Regions from separate parts of the Homo sapiens genome. Here region 2 is linked to region 1. The links come from fine-mapping of genetic effects on gene expression. Tissue or cell type: lung. Region 1 holds a variant in brackets; the other region holds the start of a gene. All regions are shown on one strand. Distances are from middle to middle.

Region 1 (10,163 bases):
AAGAAAAAAACTACAGTAAATATCTTCAGAGAGGTCAAGAAAACATAATGCATAAATAAAACAAGAAGAGGAGGCTATAAAGAAAGAAACATTTGGAAACTAAAAAAGAATGCTTGGAATTAAAATATAATTGTGGAAATTGAAAATTTAATGGAAGGATCAGAAGAAGAACTATCCCATAAAGTAAACAAGAACACAAAGATGTAGACTATTAGAAGGAACAGGAAAACTAGTGAATTAGTTCAGAAGAGTTAATATTCAATTAATAGGAGTCCCAGAAACTAAGAAAACAAGGGGAAATAGATGATGAAAGAAATGCTATAAAAACATTTCCCACATTTGAGCGTCCAATGAAATTACTGAAAAAACTCAGAGCCCTCAATCTTGCACCATTCACAAAAGTTGATTTCAGGTGTATTATACAACTGCATATGAAAAGGCAAAATAATTAAGCTTTAAGGAGCTAACATCCTCATGATTTGGAGGTATGGAAAGAATTCTAAAACAGGGTTCAAAGAACTCCAATTATAAAGGAGAAGAACACTTTCACATTTGACTACCTTAAAATTAATAATTTCAAAAGACGTTATTAAGACAATAAAAAAGCAAGACAGAGAGTGGAAGAATATATCTGCAACATGTATAACCAACATAGGACTCCTATCAAGAATGTAAAAGGAACTCCTATTAAAAAGACACTCCAATAGAAAAAGGACTTTGACAGGCAATCCACACAAAAGGAAACCCAATGGCCAATGAACACATGAAAAGATGCTCATTTTTAATCAGAGAAATACAGTTTTAAAACACAATGAGAAAAGTGTGAACCTGAATGTAAAGTATAGGCTTTAGTTAATAATAAAGTATCATTATTCGTTCATCAGTTGTAATATGTGTACAACACCAAGTCAAGATGTTAATGACAGGAAAAACCAGAGAGTGGGATATGGGGGCAGACACAGAGTATACGGGAACTCTGTACTTTCTGTTTGTAAACTTAAAACTGCTCTAAGAAATAAAGTCTATTAATTAAACACATATACACACATGAGATATCACTACAAACACATCAGATTGATTTAAAAAGCAAGTTTCTTTTGGTTTTTATTTATTCTCAAAAAATACAGGTAGAAACAAAGAAATTCAGAGGTTAACGTATACTATTTATACAAACAAAAATGTATATGTTTTAAAACTGAACTAGTGTGATTATATATTTTTTGGACCAAATTGCTGGGAACTCAAAGACCAGGTCTTTTCAAATGAAAAATAAAAGCACAGTGGTACAAAAGGATAACTGGAAAGCACAGAGGAAGAATTCTACATGGTGTGGGGGAAACAGCACTGTATTAGGGCCTCTGGAACTCAAATCTCCCTAAACCTACATAGCAGGTGAGAGGCAGAACAGAATTAAACTCAAGTCTCCTGACTTCCAATCTAGCATACATCCTCATCATGCTATTTCTATCCTCTGTGCAGTTACTGATTAAAGAATTAATAGGGGTAGAGATCAGAAAGAGGAAAAAAAAACCCAACATGATTTCATTAAGGCCAAGTCGATCTTCATTAAAGAGGATTCTTTCTAATAAGATATAAACCAACATTTCCTACTGAGGTCTCAGAGCTATATTTTATGTATGTATGTTACTATGTAATTATACCTCCAATATCTTAAATCATAAGGGCACACAAACTACATGAGATAAAGTTAGAAGTAGGTATAATTATTTTATCTACGTCTGTACTATTTGAAAACTTAACAAGAAACAATTCTTATCTTTATAACTAGTAAAAATAAAGATAGTAGGGGCCAGGCGCGGTGGCTCATACCTGTAATCCCAACACTTTAGAAGGCCAAGGCAGGCAGAGCCCACAAGTTCAAGACTAGCCTGGGCAACATGGCGAAACCCAAACTCTACTAAAAATACAAAAATCTAGCCAAGTGTAGTGGTGCGTGCCTGTAGTCCCAGCTACTCGGAGGTGGGTAGGGTAGGGGTGGTAGAGGGTGGGGGTGAGGTGGGAAGATGGCTTGAGCCCAGAAGGTCAAGGCTGTGGTGAGCCCCGATCATGCCACTGCACTCCAGCCTGGTTAACAAAAAGAGACTGTGTTGAAAGAGAAGAGAAGAGAAGGAAACATTTCTAGTGCAATTGATTGAGATTAATTACATTAACAATGATTCCCTGTTTATGTACAATTGGCTGAAATATAGATACAAAGGGAATGTGTTCCAAAAATTATATGAACAAATGAAGTTGAAAAACAACAAATGGTTGACCTCATTTTTATCAAGTATGTAAAATATTTACAAAACACCTGGAATATTATATTTTAAAATGTTAAGAAATAGAAAGGGCAGTCATGATCAGAGAGTTTTTGCAGCTCCGACTCGGGCAGACAGAACAGCTTGAGGAGACTCGCATTATGAATTTTTGTTCCAGAATGACTGCAGGAATAAATCAGGAAACCCGAGAGGACCCACAGACCCTCTGAAGGAGGTGGATTGCTCCTGCAGGACCTGGGAGACACCCCAAATACTGTGGTGGTATCCATGTCTGAGAGACCCACAGACGCTCCACATCATAGGCCTCTGTGCAGACAACCCCCTGTACCAGCCCGGAGCCTGGCAGACTTGCTGGGTGGCTAGATCCAAAAGAGAGATAACAATCACTACAGCTTGGCTCTCAGGAAGCCACATCTATAGGAAAAGGGGAGAGTACTACATCAACGGAACACCCCATGGGGCAAAAGAATGTGAACAGCCTTCAGCCCTAGATCTTCCCTCTGACAGAGCCTACCCAAATGAGAAGGAACCAGAAAACCAACTCTGGTAATATGACAAAACAAGGCTCTTTAACATCCCCCAAAAAATCACACTAGCTTGCCAGCAATGGATCCAAACCAAGAAGAAATCCCCGATTTACCTGGAAAATAATTCAGAAGGTTAGTTATTAAGCTAATCAGGGAGGCACCAGAGAAAGACAAAGCCCAATTTAAGGAAATCAAAAAAAGCGATATCAATGAAATAAATATTTTTATTTATTAAAATCAATCAAGCTGGGCACGGTGGCTCTTGCCTGTAATCCTGGCCCTTTGGCAGGCCGAGATGGGTGGATCACCTGAGGTCAGGAGTTCAAGACCAGCCTGACCAACATGGAGAACGCTCGTCTCTACTAAAAATACAAAATTAGCTGGGTGTGGTGGTGTGTGCCTGTAATCCCAGCTACTCGGGAGGCTGAGGCAGGAGAATCACTTGAACCTGGGAGGTGGAGGTTACGGTGAGCCCAGATCCTGCAAATACAAGGAAATTAAATAATCTGCTCCTGAATGATCATCAGGTCAAAATGAAATCAAGATAGAAATTAAAAAGTTATTTGAACTGAATGACAATAGTGACACAACCTATCAAAACCTCTGGGATACAGCAAAGTCAGTGCTAAGAGGAAAGTTCATAGCCCTAAATGCCTACATCAAAAAGTCTAAAAGAGCACAAACAGACAATCTAAGGTCACACCTCAAGGAACTAGAGAAACAAGAACAAACCAAACCCAAACCCAGCAGAAGAAAGGAAATAACCAAGATCAGAGCAGAACTAAATGAAATTGAAACAAAAAAAATACGAAAGATAAATAAAACAAAAGGATGGTTCTCTGAAAAGATAAATGAAATTGTTAGACCATTACTAAGATTAACCAAGAAAAGAAGAGAGAAAATCCAAATAAGCTCGATAAGAAACAAAATGGGAAATATTACAACTGACACTACAGAAATACAAAAGATCATTCAAGGCTATTATGAATACCTTTATGGGCATAAACTAGAAAACCTAGAGGAGATGGATAAATTCCTGGAAAGATACAACCTCCTAGCTCAAAGCAGGAAGAATTAGAAACCCACCAATAACAAGCAGCAAGATTGAAATGGTAATTTTAAAAATACCAACAAAAAAAAGTCCAGGACCAGAGGGATTCACAGCAGGATTCTACCATACATTCAAAGAAGAATTGGTACCAATCCTGTTGACACTATTCCACAAGATAGAGAAATAGGGAACCCTCCCTAAATCATTCTATGAAGCCAGTATCACCCTAATACTAAAACCAGGAAAGGACATAACAAAAAAAGAAAACTACAGGCTAATATCCCTGATGAATATAGATGCTAAAAGCCTTAACAAAATACTAGCTAACTGAATCCAACAACATATCAAAAAGATAATCCACCATGATCAAGTGGTTTTCATAGCAGGAGTGTGAATGTAGGGATGGTTTAACATATGCAAGCCAATAAATGTGATACACCGCATAAACAGAATTAAAAACAAAAATCACATGGTCATATCAATAGATGAAAAAAAAGCATTCGACAAAATCCGGCATCCTTTTATGATTAAAATCCTCAGCAAAATCGGCATACAAGGGACATTCCTCAATGTAATAAAATCCATCTATGACAAACCCACAGCCAACATTATACTAAGTGGGGAAAAGTTGAAAGCATTCCTGCTGAGAACTGGAACAAGGATGTCCACTCTCACCACTCCTCTTCAACATAGTACTGGAAGTCCTAGCCAGAGAAATCAGACAAGAAAAAGAAATAAAGCACATCCAAATCAGTGAAGAAGAAGTCAAACTGTCACTGTTTGCTGATGATATGATTGTTTACCTCGAAAACCCTAAAGACTCCTTCAGAAAGCTCCTAGAACTGATAAAAGAACTCAGCAAAGTTTCCAGACACAAAACTAATGTACACAAATCAGTAGCTCTTCTGTACACCAACAGCTACCAAGCTGATAATCAAATCAAGAACTCAACCCCTTTTACAATAGCTGCAAAAACAAAAAACAAAAAAAACAAAACCTTAGGAATATACCTAACCAAGGAGGTGAAAGACCACTACAAGGAAAACTACAAAACACTGCTCAGAGAAATCATAGATGACACAAAGAAATGGAAACACATCCCATG[C/A]TCATGGATGGGTAGAATCAATATTGTGATAATGACCATACTGCCAAAAGCAATCTACAAATTCAATGCAATGCCCATCAAAATACCACCATTATTCTTCACAGAATTAGAAAAATAATTCTAAGCTTCATATGAAATCAAAAAACAGTCCACATAGCCAAAGCAAGACTAAGCAAAAAGAACAAATCTGGAGGCATCACATTATCCAATTTCAAACTATACCATAAGGCCATAGTTACCAAAACAGCATGGTACTAGTATAAAAGCAGGTACTAGTATAGATCAACAGAACAGAATAGAGAACCCAGAAATAAACTCAAATACTTACAGCCAACTGATCTTTGACAAAGCAAACAAAAACATAAAGTGGGGAAAGGTCAACATGGCAAAACCCCATCTATACTAAAAATACAAAAATTAGCTGAGTGTGGCAGTGCATGCCTGTAGTCCCAGCTACTCAGGAGGCTGAGGCATGAGAATCACTCGAACCCAGGAGATGAAGGTTGCAGTGAGCCAAGATTACACCAGTACACTCCAGCCCGGGCGACAGAGCAAGACTTCATCTCAAAAATAATAATAATAATAAATTAGGCTGTTGTATTTTCTTCCTAGCATATTTATCACTATTTGAAGTTGTCTCATTTGCTCATTTGTTTATTATTTGTCTTCACTACTAAAGTGTAAGCTCCATGCAGGAGGGACACTTGCCTATGTTATTTCATGGCTGGATTCCCAGTACCTAGAACATGCCTAACATATATTTTAAAAATTCCCCAATAAATACCTATACCTGTCAAAACTGGAAAACGAATTGTCTCATGAATTGAAGACAATTTGATCCTTACTGTGTTGCTTTTAAGTTATCTAGTTTGGCTGCTGACACAGCCCAGATTGAAAACTGTCACTGTCTCAGTTAGGGAGGATGTAGGGTAGTATACAGCACAATGACCATTTCATGCTGGAATTCAGGCAAAAGTGATGCCCGGCCGGGTGCGGTGGCTCACACCTATAATCCCAGCACTTTGTGAAGCCAAGGTGGGCAGATCATGAGGTCAGGAGTTCGAGACCAGCCTGTCCAACATGGTGAAACCCCGTCTCTACTAAAAATAAAAAAAATTAGCCAGGCATGGTGGTGGAAGCCTATAATCCCAGCTACTTGGGAGGCTGAGGCAGAAGAATTGCTTGAACCCAGGAGGCAGAGGTTGCAGTGAGCCAAGATCGTGCCATTGCAGCCCGGGCAACAGTGCAAGACTCCATCTCAAAAAAACAAAAAACAAAAAAACAAAAAAGTGATGCCCACAGAAACTCCTGATACAACTGAGAACTAGATCTTGCATGCATTCACCTACTTATGGTAAAGCTTCTGAGCAGAACTCAGCAGCTTGCCCAGGAGTTTGCAGCATTTCAGAGCCATGCACTGGACAGCTATCAAAACTGTGTCATGTGCCTTGAGCCTTGAGGACTATAGAAGCAAATAAACATCAGTCATCTTGGCTGCACATGTGTCGGACACTGCTAAAGTCAACACCCCTTCCATAAGGAGTGTGCATTTCAGTTTCCAGCTGCCAAATCATATTGGTTGTCAGAGATTGAAGCCAACATGATTCATAAATGTTAATTTGGCAGAGGATCAGGAATTCCCCAACTTCATGTCAACTAGGCTTCCATCTGTCCAAGGAAGCCAACAGTCTGCTTTCTCCTATCTCTTAATAAAAGGCTGAGAAGATGAGCAATGGTGATCAGCAAAGCTTGTAGGAAACATGTGCGCTATCTACAATCAAAACTGCAATCTATGATCAGGATCAGCGGGTTCCTATTTGGTAATAAGTACCTTGTCAAAACAGACAAGCACTTAGTTCATATCTCTCCAGTAAATGTTCTCAAAAGCAGCCCCAAGTCACTAGAAACAATAGGATGAGAGAGAACAAGGCAATATTCTCTTTGCATAACAAATCTTAGTAAATTGTAAACACATCAGAGTCACTTATTCCTCACATAATTGACTCCTACCTTTTCTTTTTCACGTTATTTTTCTTTTACATTAAATATGCCTTACTAAAGTGGTGGGTCCTTAATTAGCATCCTCATGTAAACATAGGCCTTGTTTTATTTGAAAAAGATTAAAAAGGTGGTGACTCACTTTAATAGGAAAACCCACAAACAATGAATGCAATGCCCTTTAATCCATAGTTGCTGTTCCAATCCCACGTAGAATTATAAAAGGTCCCCATAAAATCCCATTAACCTGCCCAAGACCTCTCTCTTAATAGCTCTCTGCCTTTTCCATGCAGATGTACAGCATGATTGAAGTAGATGAAATATGAAGTGATTTCACACTGTGGGGTTAGAGAAAGAAGGCGAAGTCCAGTAAGGGCATGGAGCATATGAATTTCTAGATGTGCCCAAATAAAGAAGAGATGTGGACAGGTAAGTCAGAAGTAGTAGCCTGAAAAGACCATGGGGCCAGGTGAGTCAAGAAGGGTGGGTGTTTTCAGAGTCGCTGGAGAAGGCAAGTCCACAATAAGACTGAGAAGAGACTGGAAAGAAAGATGCTTGTGGTGGAGTCCGCAATTGTTCCCATACAATTTGGGCCACAGAGGCCACTGTAGCCAGCTGGGGCCACAGCAACAGGAAGGAGTGGGAGGTCTGAGCAGAGGCTGTGGAGGAAGACAAGTCTATCACCAGAGGCTGGAAGTGAAGGAGGAAGTCGAGAGCAAGCCAAAACCCCAGGGTATCAAATGCTTCTCATTTGAGAAGTCTGCAAGAAATCAGCACAAGGAAGACATGTTGAGAGGAAATAAACAGCAATGTCTTGTTCAGTTACAAAATAATTAAGAAATGGAATTTTACTCTTGTGCCTCCCCAATACACAATTTTCTCAGCTTCAGCTCCCATCTCCATGAGGCCTCAAAATTAGTCATCAGATTTTACCACTCTTTCCCATATCTACACAAAATAGTTCAAGTTCAAACAGCTCTGAAAGTCTCTTTTCCGTTGCTTCAAATTCTTGGTCCTGAAACTAAGCAGCCAGAATCAGCCTGTCAAAACAAAACAAAAAAAGCTCCCCAAAAGGTCACTGATCATTGCTTAAAACAGTCAATCTCATGTAAAGAGTCCATTAACTAGTTGGAAAGAGGCTCTTAACTAATGCCTTTCCTTATTACCTGTTCCCTGGTTCATCAAGTTCTCTAACCCTAAAACACAAACATACTTTCCAACCCACCCTTCATCTGGCCCATAATCAAACACAGTAAGTGAAAGAAAAAATATATATATTATTGTACCCTGGACAACCCTTATTTTCATAAAAGTAGTAACTGGCTCCATGAATAGATTTTCCGCTTTTTCCAAGTTGGTACATACGGAACCATTATTGCTTTTGATGTTGACATAAATACTCACTATAAGGCCTAAAAGTATTCAGAAAATTACAGAATATACAGTGTTACAGACTAGGAAGAAAGTACTCTCCCAGGCTAGTTGTAATTAACAAAGATGACCAGCCAAAACCTTGGTGAGTGAACAAACCCAAAAAGGAGATTTATTTTATGCTAAAAACCAAGATGGGGGAGGAAGGTGGATGAGAGAAGCAGAAAGACATATGCTGGGGCCTGATTACAATGTTTCTAGAGTCTAATCCACTGCCAACAAGCCCTGGTTCTCTGGTTCTGCTTCACTGGGCAGAGGAACATGCAGCCCCGAGCACCAGAGCATGATCGGAGGGACCCAGGGTACAGAGTGTGCCAGGGAGCATAAGTCTCAAGGCAAGAAGGATGAAGACCCAGGTGAAGGCTGAGCAGACAGAGCAAATGGGGGTTGCCATCAACCTCTGAATTGATACAGCTTGATTCTGAGTGTCAAGCATTTTTAATTATACATGTTATACATAATTGATGCAGAAAAAGGAGAAAATGGAGCAAAAAGACAATAAAAATCATCCACATCTGCCACCCAAATAGGCACTACTTTTATTTGGAATACTTTGAATAATTATTTTATATACTTATAATGTATGTAAATAGGAGATTGAGACCATCCTGGCTAACATGGTGAAACCCCATCTCTACTAAAAATACAAAAAATTAGCCTGGCGTGGTGGCAACATCTGTAGTCCCAGCTACTCGGGAGGCTGAGGCAGGAGAATCTCTTAAACCTGGGAGGTGGAGGTTGCAGTGAGCCGAGATCATGCCACTGCACTCCTGCACTCCAACCTGGGTGACAGAGTGAGACTCCATCTCAAAAAACAAAAAAACAAAAAAAAACAAGAATTCCAGCAAGATGGCTGAATAGGAACAGCTCTGGTCTGCAGCTCCCAGCGAGACTGATGCAGAAGATGGGTGATTTCTGCATTTCCAACTGAGGTACCTGGTTCATCTCACTGGGACTGATTGGACAGTGGGTGCAGCCCACAGAGGGTGAGCCGAAGCAGAGTGGGGTGCTGCCTCACCCAGGAAGCTCAACGGGTCAGGGGATTTCCCTTTCCCAGCCAAGGGAAGCCATGAGAGACTGTACCAGAAGGAACAGTACACTCCTCCCCAGATACTGCACTTTTCCCATGGTCTTCGCAACCGGAAGACCAGGAGATTCCCTCTGGTGCCTGGCTCAGCAGGTTCCACGCCCACAGAGCCTAGCAAACTAAGATCCATTGGCTTGAAATTCTCGTGGCTAGCGCAGCAGTCTGAGATCGACTTGGGATGCTGGAGCTTGGCAGAGGGAGGGGTGTCTGCCATTGCTGAGGCTTCAGTAGGCGGTATTATGCTCACAGTGTAAACAAAGCCACTTGGAAGTTCGAACTGGGTGGAGCCCACCACAGCTCAGCAAGGCCAACTGTCTCTCTAGATTCCACCTCTGTGGGCAGGGCATCTCTGAACAAAAGGCAGCGGCCCCACTCAGGGACTTATAGATAAAGCCCCCATCTTCCTGGGACAGAGAACCTGGGGGAAGGCGCAGCTGTGGGCACAGCTTCAGCAGACTTAAACGTCCCTGCCTGACAGCTCTGAAGAGAGCAGTAGTTCTCCCAGCAGAGTGTTCGAGCTCTGATAACAGACAGACTGCCTCCTCAACTGGGTCCCTGACCCCATGTAGCCTGACTGGGAGATACCTCCCAGTAGGGGCTGACAGATACCTCATACAGGAGAGCTCTGGCTGGCATCTGGCAGGTGAACCTCTAGGACGAAGCTTCCAGAGGAAGGATCAGG
Region 2 (10,163 bases), 35 kb after region 1:
AGAAAAAAACAAAAATACAATAGCAAAGTACAACTGGCATAAACTGGACTGTAACCAAACACCGCTGTAAGCATGCACCTGACCTAGTAACAGCCAAGTATACAAATTTATTAAGATGATAGCTATTTCCCACAGCGGTCTCTGTGTCTGAGCAACCACCAGGATGTGGTTCAGAGGAGGAGAGCATTGGTTAATCCAATGAGTTGTTTCAGTGTTGGGCAGTATTTCATTAAGCAGAACAGAGTCACATGCATGTAGAGGGGCAGAGAGGTGATAAGTGTCTATTATATGACCCAACACAGCCTCAACTGGTTCCCAAGAGGAAGTTCTCTACGTGTCTTCAAAAAGAGGCAAGGATGTGCTGCCATAAAGATAGGTATATCCTCTGCCTCTATAAAAGCTTTACCGTGCTTTACCATCTTTCAAGAAGCAACTCCAATGGGCCCTCCTCTACAAAGTCTTCCCTAACCCTCAAATCTTCACAGTGCCTGCCTGCTCTCTCTTCTTCCTTTTAATTCCCAAAGTACTTATGCATCTCTTATGGTAGTTTGAATCGGTATGATAGCTAGCCATACAATGTCCTCTCTTCCATACCAGGATGTAAGCTGCATCAGAGGCATGTTCTGTGTCTTTACACGTCCTGCTGTCACCAGCACCAGAAAAGAGATGCTCAAAACACAGTCTTCACACAAATCCTTATACAAATCTTTTAATAAGAAGTAGAAGTTCAATAAATATTCATTAAATTAATAAATGAATGAGCACACTAATTAAATAATTAATTAATTTCATGCAACATCTTACCTGGCTACAGCAATTAACCCTACTCGTCAATGCGCGGTAAATGAAGGAAGGATATGTATCTGATGGGGCACAGTGGTGGGTGAATGAAGAAAAAAAAATCAGCTACTCCAGGTGCCTAGCATGCATCAGAAATTGTGACTGTTCCCCAAATGTTCAACAGACACCACCTTCAAACAGGACATTGTTAGATAATGACACTTTCTGATGTCCTTTGATGTAGAGCACATTAAAAATATTATCAGAGGGAAAATCTTTCTGTTCAAAATCCCCCAACCTCTTCAACTGTGTATTTAGTTTTCATCAATTAAATTATTATATCATTTCAATGGGTGACTTTTTATATACACTGGAAAGGTACTCATAAGAAAATAGCTTCCAAATTGGCAATTTTTAAAAGCAAAGCAACTGGTTAGGTGAGGAATGCATAAACAACCCCAAAAGCGGCACTGAATACTTTTCTTTGGCTGTATACGACTGAAAAACTGCCAAGTTCATTTCGATAAGCCTTTGTTAAAAACAATAAACATGCCTGAGCTTGCAAACTATGCTGTTTTGAAGAAAAAGCAATTGAGAGAATTAGAAAATGCTTAAAACTGGAATGTCTAATAGTCTATGAATATGGAGGAAAGTGGGGGACAAAATGTAAAGTGAGACAAAATAACAACAGAACACCATCTTCATAAATAAATAAAAAGCAACATCTTATAAACTAATTTAATTAGTCTCCAATACTAACATGGTACCACTAACACTCTTAAGAAAACAAATCATCCCGTGCTTCAAGTTTAGTCACCAAGGTGATCTCCCTGCAATAAAGGAAATGTAATTTCATTGACTCCAAATGAACATATATTAAATAACCAAATGTGGGAACTGCAATTCACTTACAGTAAAATGTCAGCTCATAAAAGTCAAAGTAACTTCACCTGAATTTGTTTTTTTGTTGTTGTTGTTGTCGTTTTTAGTTTTTTTTTTTTCCATGATTATAAGATTCTCAGAATTGCAGGATTGGAAGGAAGATAGTTTGGATCACTTATGTTTATTTTCCTGCTTAGGTAAAACTGAAATTCTCTTGTACCTGCCTAAGAAATCCTGGAAAAATTCTAGTGAATAAATTGCAACTTGAGCTCTATAGGATCAAAGTTCTTTGTTTTGTTCATTGACATATCCCAAATGCCCAGAACAGCACTAGGCATACAGTAGGCACTCAATAAATATCTGCTCAATTGAACTAAATTGAAAAATATGCAGTGCAATGCAATGTTAAATAAGTCACTTTGAAACTCCTTTCTTAGCTTTGTTTTGGTCATAGTATTAATCACAATAAACAAACAGTCCTCATATAAAACACTTCAACACTATAATTCATGTTTTTACTTCTGATCGATCATTACCATAGAGGGTGCTGAGAATCAGAAAAGACTCCAAGGAAAGATGGGGGTAGAGTTACTCCCATCTATTTGGACTAATTTTCTTCTTCTGGGCATTCACCTGAGAAGTATCTGTATATCCATAATATAAAAATAATTTAAAATATTACTTAAAATTAAAGGTTTGCACCTTTAAAAATTGTGCCACAAAAGCAATTTGATTAAATCAACCTCTCATCTATTTCAGAATCCCATCAGTTAAAAAAAAAAAACATAAAAAATAAGAACAGGAAAATGATGTGATTAGGTGATGCTAGTCATATTATTTTTGCTCAAAATGCCTAGAGGCAATATGCCTTGGAAAACTGAGTTAGGTGGGAATGAGAAGATCTGGATTCTAGTGTTGATTCCATCACCAGTTAACAGTATGAATTCAGCCAATCCTTGCCAATCTGGATCTGAGCTTCCTGGGCTGTAACGTGAAGAGTTTGAATTTAGTAGATGGTCTCCAAAGCCTTTCAGTTTCAAAGTTTCTCTAAACCCTGTAATTATAAGTGACTAAATCCAGTTCACCTAATTACTACCACTACTCTTTTACATCCTTCATTTCTTCAGCAAACATCCGGTCACCTTGGGGGCGCAGGGGGTGGAGGATGTCAAACACCATTAGCCACAGTTTGGCACGACATTTATGGAGGGGGAGCGACAAACAATGCAAGGGCAGCTAGCTGATGATTTTAACTGTTAGCGAGCTTACACCTGTGGAGCGAATGTGTTTCTGAATTTGAAAGGCCGGAAGATTTTCCCCCTGGGCTAAGCTGGTGACGCCGCGGGAGTGCCTAGCTCTGAGCAAAGAACCAGGTAGGATGAACTAATTAGAGGCTCTTCAAAAGGAGAGTGTTTAACCAGTTTCCTGGCAGGACTCACCTGACTAGACATTTTTAAAAATTATGGCCAGGCACGGTGGCTCACGCCTGTAATCCCATCACTTTGGGAGGCTAAAGCGGGCAGATCGCTTGAGCCCAGGAGCTCGAGAGCAAACCGGCCAATATGTCGAAATCCTGTATCTGCAAAAAAAAAAAAAAAAAAAAAAAAAAATCCAAAAATTAGCCGGGCGTGGTGGCGCGCACCTTTAGTCCCAGCTACTCCAGATGCTGGGGAGGGAGGATCGTTGGAGCCGGGGAGGCGGAGGTTGCAATGAGCTGAGATCGCGCCACTGCACTCCAGCCTGGGCGACAGAGCGAGACCTTGTCTCTAAATAAATAAATAGTATAAGAGGTTTAGAATGCTGATGTGTGAAAACGGAAGACTAACCAAATAGCCCCAGGACTTACTGAAATTGTGCTTCAAAATTTTGTTACGAACGCTTTTCCGAGTCCACAATACAGGTATCACTGGTTTATTTGTGGACAAGAAGCAACTGAGAAATTGAGTTCAATCCACTGAAAGCCGGTGTGTTTTTAATATAGCACACACGGGAAATAAATATTATTGTCTGAGGTGGGGGACGGGGAGAGATTTTTAAAATGTACTATAAACATAAAATCCAGAAGAAAGATGGTCTCTATTCCACCGAGAAGTCTGCATTTGAAAACCACAAGAGATGGAGATCAAAGCCGCTCGTTCTCCAGCCACCTGCCCAAAAACTCGGCCGCAGCGCAGACCCAACCCAGACAGGGCAAGTGAGCACGTGTCTCCCTCCCAACCCAAGCTGCGCGCCGACGCACCCAAGTTAGGGTCCCAGGCTCCCGGCGCGGGATGGGCGCTAGGGCAGCGGAGAATGGAGGGTCCCCGTCCTCCTCCAGCTCCAACGACAGCGCCAGCGCCCCGCCGTCCCGCCGCCCTTCCTTGAAGGATGCCCGTGTCACCTGAGCCACCGCGCCCTCTGCACAACCGTGTCAGGGAGAGGGAAGAGGGGGAGCCGAGGAAGCTTCTTGGCCAGGGCGCTGGGGATCCGGGAGCGGGGGCCGCCGGCGAGACTGAGCCCGGGACAGCCCAGAGCTCCAGCGCTCCAGCGCTCTGCAGCCCGCCCAGAGCGCGCAGACCACCCCCATGCCCCGCCCGCCCTCCTGCCACACCCGCCCCCAGCCCGGCCCCGCCGCCTCCTCACCTCGCCGGGACCACTGCAGCCCTGGCGGTAGCGCGCGGACATGCCCCCGGGGCGCACCCGCCGAGCCGCGTCCCTGCGCAGTGGCCCCTTCCCGGGCCCCAGGCTGCGCGATCCGCGCTTCGGTGGGGCGGGGAGCGGACTGGGCGGAGGCGCCGGCGAGGCTGGGGCCGGGGGCCTAGCTGGCAACGCCGGGAGAGGGAAGCGTAGCGCGGAAAATCCCAGTGCTCGGCCTTCGAAATGCACCGGCTCATTCAGCCCCGCCAGCTCCGCCGGGGACTCTGCCTGGCCGGCAAAGAGGATTTAGCGCGGGGATCCGCTCTAAGTACTGTGGCTTGGCTAGGGGCGAGGGGCGCAGCGGAGGAGGGACGTCTCGCGGTTATGTAATGCACCGGCTTTCTGTGTCCCCAGCCAAACCGCTCTAGGACTGCCGGACCCTCCCCGGGAAGAGCCATGACCCCTGACCTCGGCAAGCCGAGGGGAGCTCGGTGTTCCCAAAAAGAACTTTTCCCCTCAGGGTCAAAGAGCAAGATCTCGAGAAAAAATACAAGGCCTCCTTTAGGTGTATCTGGCAGGGATCCGGACCCTGCTAGCCAATCCTTCCCATTTCACAGCACAGGAAACTGAAGCTCCAGAATGCTAGTGAAAAGCGTTATCTCTTGGAGTCAAAAGGACCTGGGTTCAACGCATCTGAAAATCTCATAACCTTGGGCAATTTAACTCTCTGAGCCTCACTTTTGCTTGTAAAACAAAGGATGATAGCGCCCACTTCATGTTGTTGCTGCGAGTATGAAATGAGTGAGGTGTAGGCGCCCGGTACATAATACAATTCCCCAAACGTTGACTCAAAGCCTGAAAAGGGAGCTGCCAGGACGTACCCCACGTAGGACAGGTTCCAGGCGAACTTTCTGTAAAGTCCTCTCCTTGTCAGAAGCAAGGCCTCTGAACTGACAAGGTCTGGTTCCAATATCTTGGAGCCTACGTCCTCACTTCTTCAAGAGTGGCCCGTAGACCAACAGCGAGGTCATCACCTGGGTGCTTGTTAAAAATGCGGAATCTCAGGCCCAACCGCGGATCAGAATCTGCATTTTTTGCAAGATTCCCTGGTGATTTCGCTGTATGTCAAAATTTCAAAATGAATTAGGCTTTTTGGAATTATTATTATTATTATTTTTGAGAAGCAGTCTCGCTCTGTCGCCCAGGCTGGAGTGCAGTGGTGCGATTTTGGCTCACTGCAACCTCCGCCTCCCTAGTTCAAACGATTCTCCTGCCTCAGCTTCCGGAGTAGCTGGGATTACGGGCGCGTGCCACCACGCCCAGCTAATTTTTTGTATCTTTGGTAGAGACGGGATTTCACCATGTTGGCCAGGCTGATCTCGAACTCCTGACCTCATGATCTGCCCGACAAAGAGTTACTGATGAACAGTAGGGAGCATTTGCCACGCAGCAAGGCACCGTAGGTATGTTTTTTTTTTTTTTTTTTTTGGGAAGGAGTCTCGTTTTGTTTGTTTTCTAAAGAAGGGATTTCACTATGTCGCTAAGGCTAGAGTGCTGTGGTGCGATCATAGCTCATTGCAGTCTCGAACTCCTAGGCTCAAGGGATCCTCCTGCCTCAGCCTCCCCAAGCACTGGGATTACAGGCTTGAGCCACTGTGCAAGCCAGGGGTTTTTTTAAATAGTCTAGTATAGTCCTTTCTCATTTTACCCTCTGGCTATTTTTAGTCATCCCCCTCCTCTCAGTTTCCTGCCCTTTAACTATAAATCTGAATTTAAGTCCTATTTTCACTTGCAAAAAACCCTAGGTTAGATTTAAGTGATGATTAGTGAATAAATGTTCAAAACTCACAAAAGAAAGAACAAATACAGCTTGTAAAAGAATTCATTAGCATTGAAAATGAACCTGTAAATGTAGAGGCTGCCATGAGTGAGCCCTGACCTCTCAGCCGTGAAGGTCTTTAGGTTAAAGGCTTGAATACCTTTGAGTTTCAGAAAAATGCTTCTTTCAGTTAAACATTGCTTTGGGTGGCAAATAAGTCTCACTTTCCATTTAAATAATGTAGGACAACAGTTTTTAAAGTTTTGGAGACTAGGACACCGCACAAGGCTTCCTTTCGTCTAAGTCACCACTTACAGGGGGCTCTAGCAAAGACCAAAGCTAATACTGTGTTTATTCTATTCAATGCTGTGTCACTGATGTTGTTGTTTCATTAGAAGTTCAGATTTTGTGTGTCTGATTCTATCTCTGGCAGGATGATTTTCATCCTTTACGAGTTCAGTAACTGTGGGTTGATGATGGTGATGGTGAGTGCAATGCGTATAGGCAGTGCCGGATACAGACGGGTCACTTCTGTGTGCCTACCCCTTTGGGGTTCCACGCTCAAGACCTGACATAGCTGCTGACAGGCAGCATGGAAGTGGAGAAAGGGAGATGCACAAAGCAAAACAATCTCCTTTCACTGAGGCTGGAGGATTGGGGGTGGAGAATGTTGGACTGCTATCGCTGTGCAGAAGAAAAGCAAAGCAAAGGAACCCTAGAATCCAACCTAGGAGGAAAGGGAAGGAGCAACATTTCTTCCAAATAGCACTGTCCAACAGAATTTTCTACAGTGATGGAAATGTGCTATGTTTGCACAGTCCCAACACGGCTATAAAATATGGCTATTTACATTTTAGTTAATTAATTATAATCGTAATTAAAATTGAGGTTTCTTGTGTGTGTTTTGCTTTTTTCTTTTTTACTACTAGTCTGTTGCACTAATCACCTTTCAAGTGCTTCACTCCAAGATGTGGCTAATGTCTACCATACTGGATAGCACTCAAAACGTTTTCTTCATCACAGAAAGTTCTACTGGACAGTGACGCTTAGAGGCCAGGATTTTGGTAAAGAAATGAGCCCAGATACCCAGCTTTTCCAAGTCATAGTCAGAACTTCATCTGTCTAAAAGCAAGTAATAGAATGAAAATTAAACCTACATCGAGGCTTTGTGATAATCAAAATGAGTTAATCTATAGAATGTATTTAATTCAATGCCTTGCATATTATACATGTGTAAAAAATATTAATCCTTATTAGTATTAATAGTCTTTTACCTTAAAAATATTGGGGAATGACAAAGATTTTTTTCCTTGGCCAAACTTTAGTCAGGCTCCTGAACTTTCTCCTAAGACCATGTGTGTATTTCCTTGTAAATTCCAGTTTATCAAAGAACCCGGCAAAATCAGTTTGGCAATAACGTCCCTTCCCATTGACAACTGATCACCCAAGGGTTCCTCATCCTCCACTGTCCTCCAGGTGATATCTAATCACCTTGGCCTGTCTTTAGTAAGAATCCTGTTAGGTCGATTTAACTAGAGTCCCATATCCTGTTTCTTGGCTATAAATTCCGATTTTCCTCTGCTGTATTCATAGTGGAGCCCCATCTCTCTACCCTACTGCAAGTCTTCGTTGTAGTGGTCCCTGTATCTGTCTCAATGGTCCTGAATAGTCTTCTTTACCATGCTGTAACAAGTGACATTGAATATTTTTTTTCTTTAATAGGGACATGGCATTAATGGTACATCATTATTAGTTAAGTAACCTTTCGCTGATGTGGTCAGCTGATCTGGTACCTCCACATGCATTAATAGTTGTGTTCTAACTTTCTCCCTTCCTCTTCTTCCCTACTCAGAATTGAGTACTATTTGTACTTTTCTGGCCTGGAGGCACAGAATATTTTGTCAAATCCCTACCATTTGTAGCCAATAAATAACACGTGTGTTAACTAAAATCCTATTGCACCATGGTTCAGTGGAATTAATTTTCAGATAGGATTCTGAGAAGCCTGACACCTTAGGGTACATCCATTATGAAAAGAATTGTTTGTTCCTGTTATTTGGTCAAACAAGAATGTGTGGACTCAGTACAGAAAAAAAGGGAACATTGGCTACAGATAAGTAATATTTGGGGTGTCCAGGTCAAGATAGAAGCTACTGGAAGGTTGGGGGTTGAGGATGAAACCTTAAGGCTTTTGCCTAAATAGAATTTGAAATTTTGTTCTCATGACTAATTAAGATTTTAGGACTAAATACAAACAGCATAAATAAGATGCAAGTATTTTACGTAGTCAGCTGTACAGATTAGGGCAATACATGGACAAGGAAATAGTGAAATTCTTCCTTAGACACCAAGAAACAAATTTTTCTTTCTTTCTTTCTTTCTTTCTTTCTTTCTTTCTTTCTTTCTTTCTTTCTTTTTTCTTTTTTTCTTTCTTTCATTACTTCCTTCTTTCTCTTTCTTTCTTCTTTCTTTCTTTCTCTCTTTCTTTCTTTCTTTTCTCTCACCCTTCCTTCCTTCTTTCCTTCCTTCCTTCCTTTCTTTTCTCTGGCTCTCTCTTTTTTCTTCCTTTCCTTCTTTCTTTGCCTCTTTTTCTTTCTTTCTTTCTTCTTTTGTTGCTTCTGAGACAGAGCCTCACTCTGTCACCCAGGTTGGAGTGCAGTGGCATCGTCACAGTTCACTGCAGCCTTGATTACCTAGGTTCAAGAGATCCTCCCACCTCAGCCTCCCAAGTAGCTGGGACTACAGCCACCCACCACCATGCCTGGCTAGTTTTTGTATTTTTTGTAGGGACAGAGTTTTGCCATGTTGCCCAGGCTGGTCTCAAACTTGTGGGCTCAAGCGATCCTCCCGCCTTGGCCTCCCAAAGTGCTGGGACCACAGCCGTGAGCCACCATGCCCAGCCTAGAGTCCACCTTCTTTATCATCTTTTTTTGTTCCTCTTTCACCAGTCCACTCTTTTCTATGAGCACTTTCTTAGACTTTAGCCCCTATTTCCACTGTCCTTTCTTAATGTATATCTCCATCCCAGCCTCATGACTGTAGCTAATACCTGCTGTCAACGGCAGTGCGTTTCCAGTTCTGACCTCCCTCTGAACTCCAATTCTTGTTGCCAGATAGCCAGTGAATATTTTCACTTGCATTCTCCCTACACCATCACTTGGAGATTTTAAAATATCAGGAACTCAAGTCATCACTACAATCTGCTCTTAGATCCCAACAACTCTCTTCTCCGATGTCACTTAGTCTCTGGAGCTAACATTCTCTCATTTACTATGACTCAAAGCTATGTCATCATTTTAACCCATTTATCTTTCTGGAGTCATGGTATAACTGAAAGGCATTGAATTTGAAATCAGAAAACCGAAGTAAAAAATCTCATTTCTACCACTTCTTACCAAGACAAACTAAGCAAATTTCTTTTTTTTTTTTCCCTTTTTTTTTTTGACAAGGAGTCTCACTCTATTGCCCAGGCTGGAGTGCAGTTGTACAATCTCGGCTCAATTTAAGCTCTGCCTCCTGGGTTCATGACATTCTCCTGCCTCAGCCTCCTGAGTAGCTGGGACTATAGGTGCCCACCACCACGCCAGGCTAATTTTTTTTTTTGTATTTTTAGTAGAGAGGGGGTTTCACTGTGTTAGCCAGGATGGTCTCGATCTCCTGACCTCGTGATCCGCCCGCCTCGGCCTCCCAAAGTGCTGGGATTACAGGCGTGAGCCACCACGCCTGGCTGCAAATTTCTTAACATCCCACCTCTCGAGCCTCAGATTTCTCATCTATAAAATAAAATCACCAGTACTATTCAAAAAACATGGATTGAGGATGGGTATGGTGGCTCATGCCTGTAATCCAACATTTTGGGAGGCTAAGACCAGAGGATCACTTGAGGCCAGGAGTTCTAGACCAGCCTAGGCAACATACTGAGACCCCGTCTCTACAAAAAAATTTTAAAAATTAGCTAGACATGGTGGTGAGCACCTGTAACCCCAGCTACTTGGGAGGCTGAGGTAGGAGGATCTCTTGAGCACAGGAGTTCGAGGCTGTTATCGTGTTACAGCACTCCAGCTTG

The links. PIP is the estimated chance that this variant, and not a neighbour inherited with it, causes the effect.
Region 2: SLC16A12 starts here. The variant in region 1 is fine-mapped to the expression of SLC16A12 in lung (TOPMed, PIP 0.96).

What each region holds. Positions count from the first base shown.
Region 1 is chr10:89,496,220-89,506,382 of GRCh38, forward strand. The region is part of intron 2 of SLC16A12 (solute carrier family 16 member 12); the gene reads right to left. Among named protein-coding and RNA genes, the nearest start is that of SLC16A12, 34 kb to the right of the region's middle. The variant C/A (reference allele first, on the strand shown) is at 4,966.
Region 2 is chr10:89,531,400-89,541,562 of GRCh38, forward strand. It overlaps SLC16A12 (solute carrier family 16 member 12), which reads right to left and starts at 4,195. Exons shown (of 8, transcript NM_213606.4): 1 at 4,043-4,195; 2 at 3,102-3,241. RefSeq lists an enhancer at 2,462-3,361.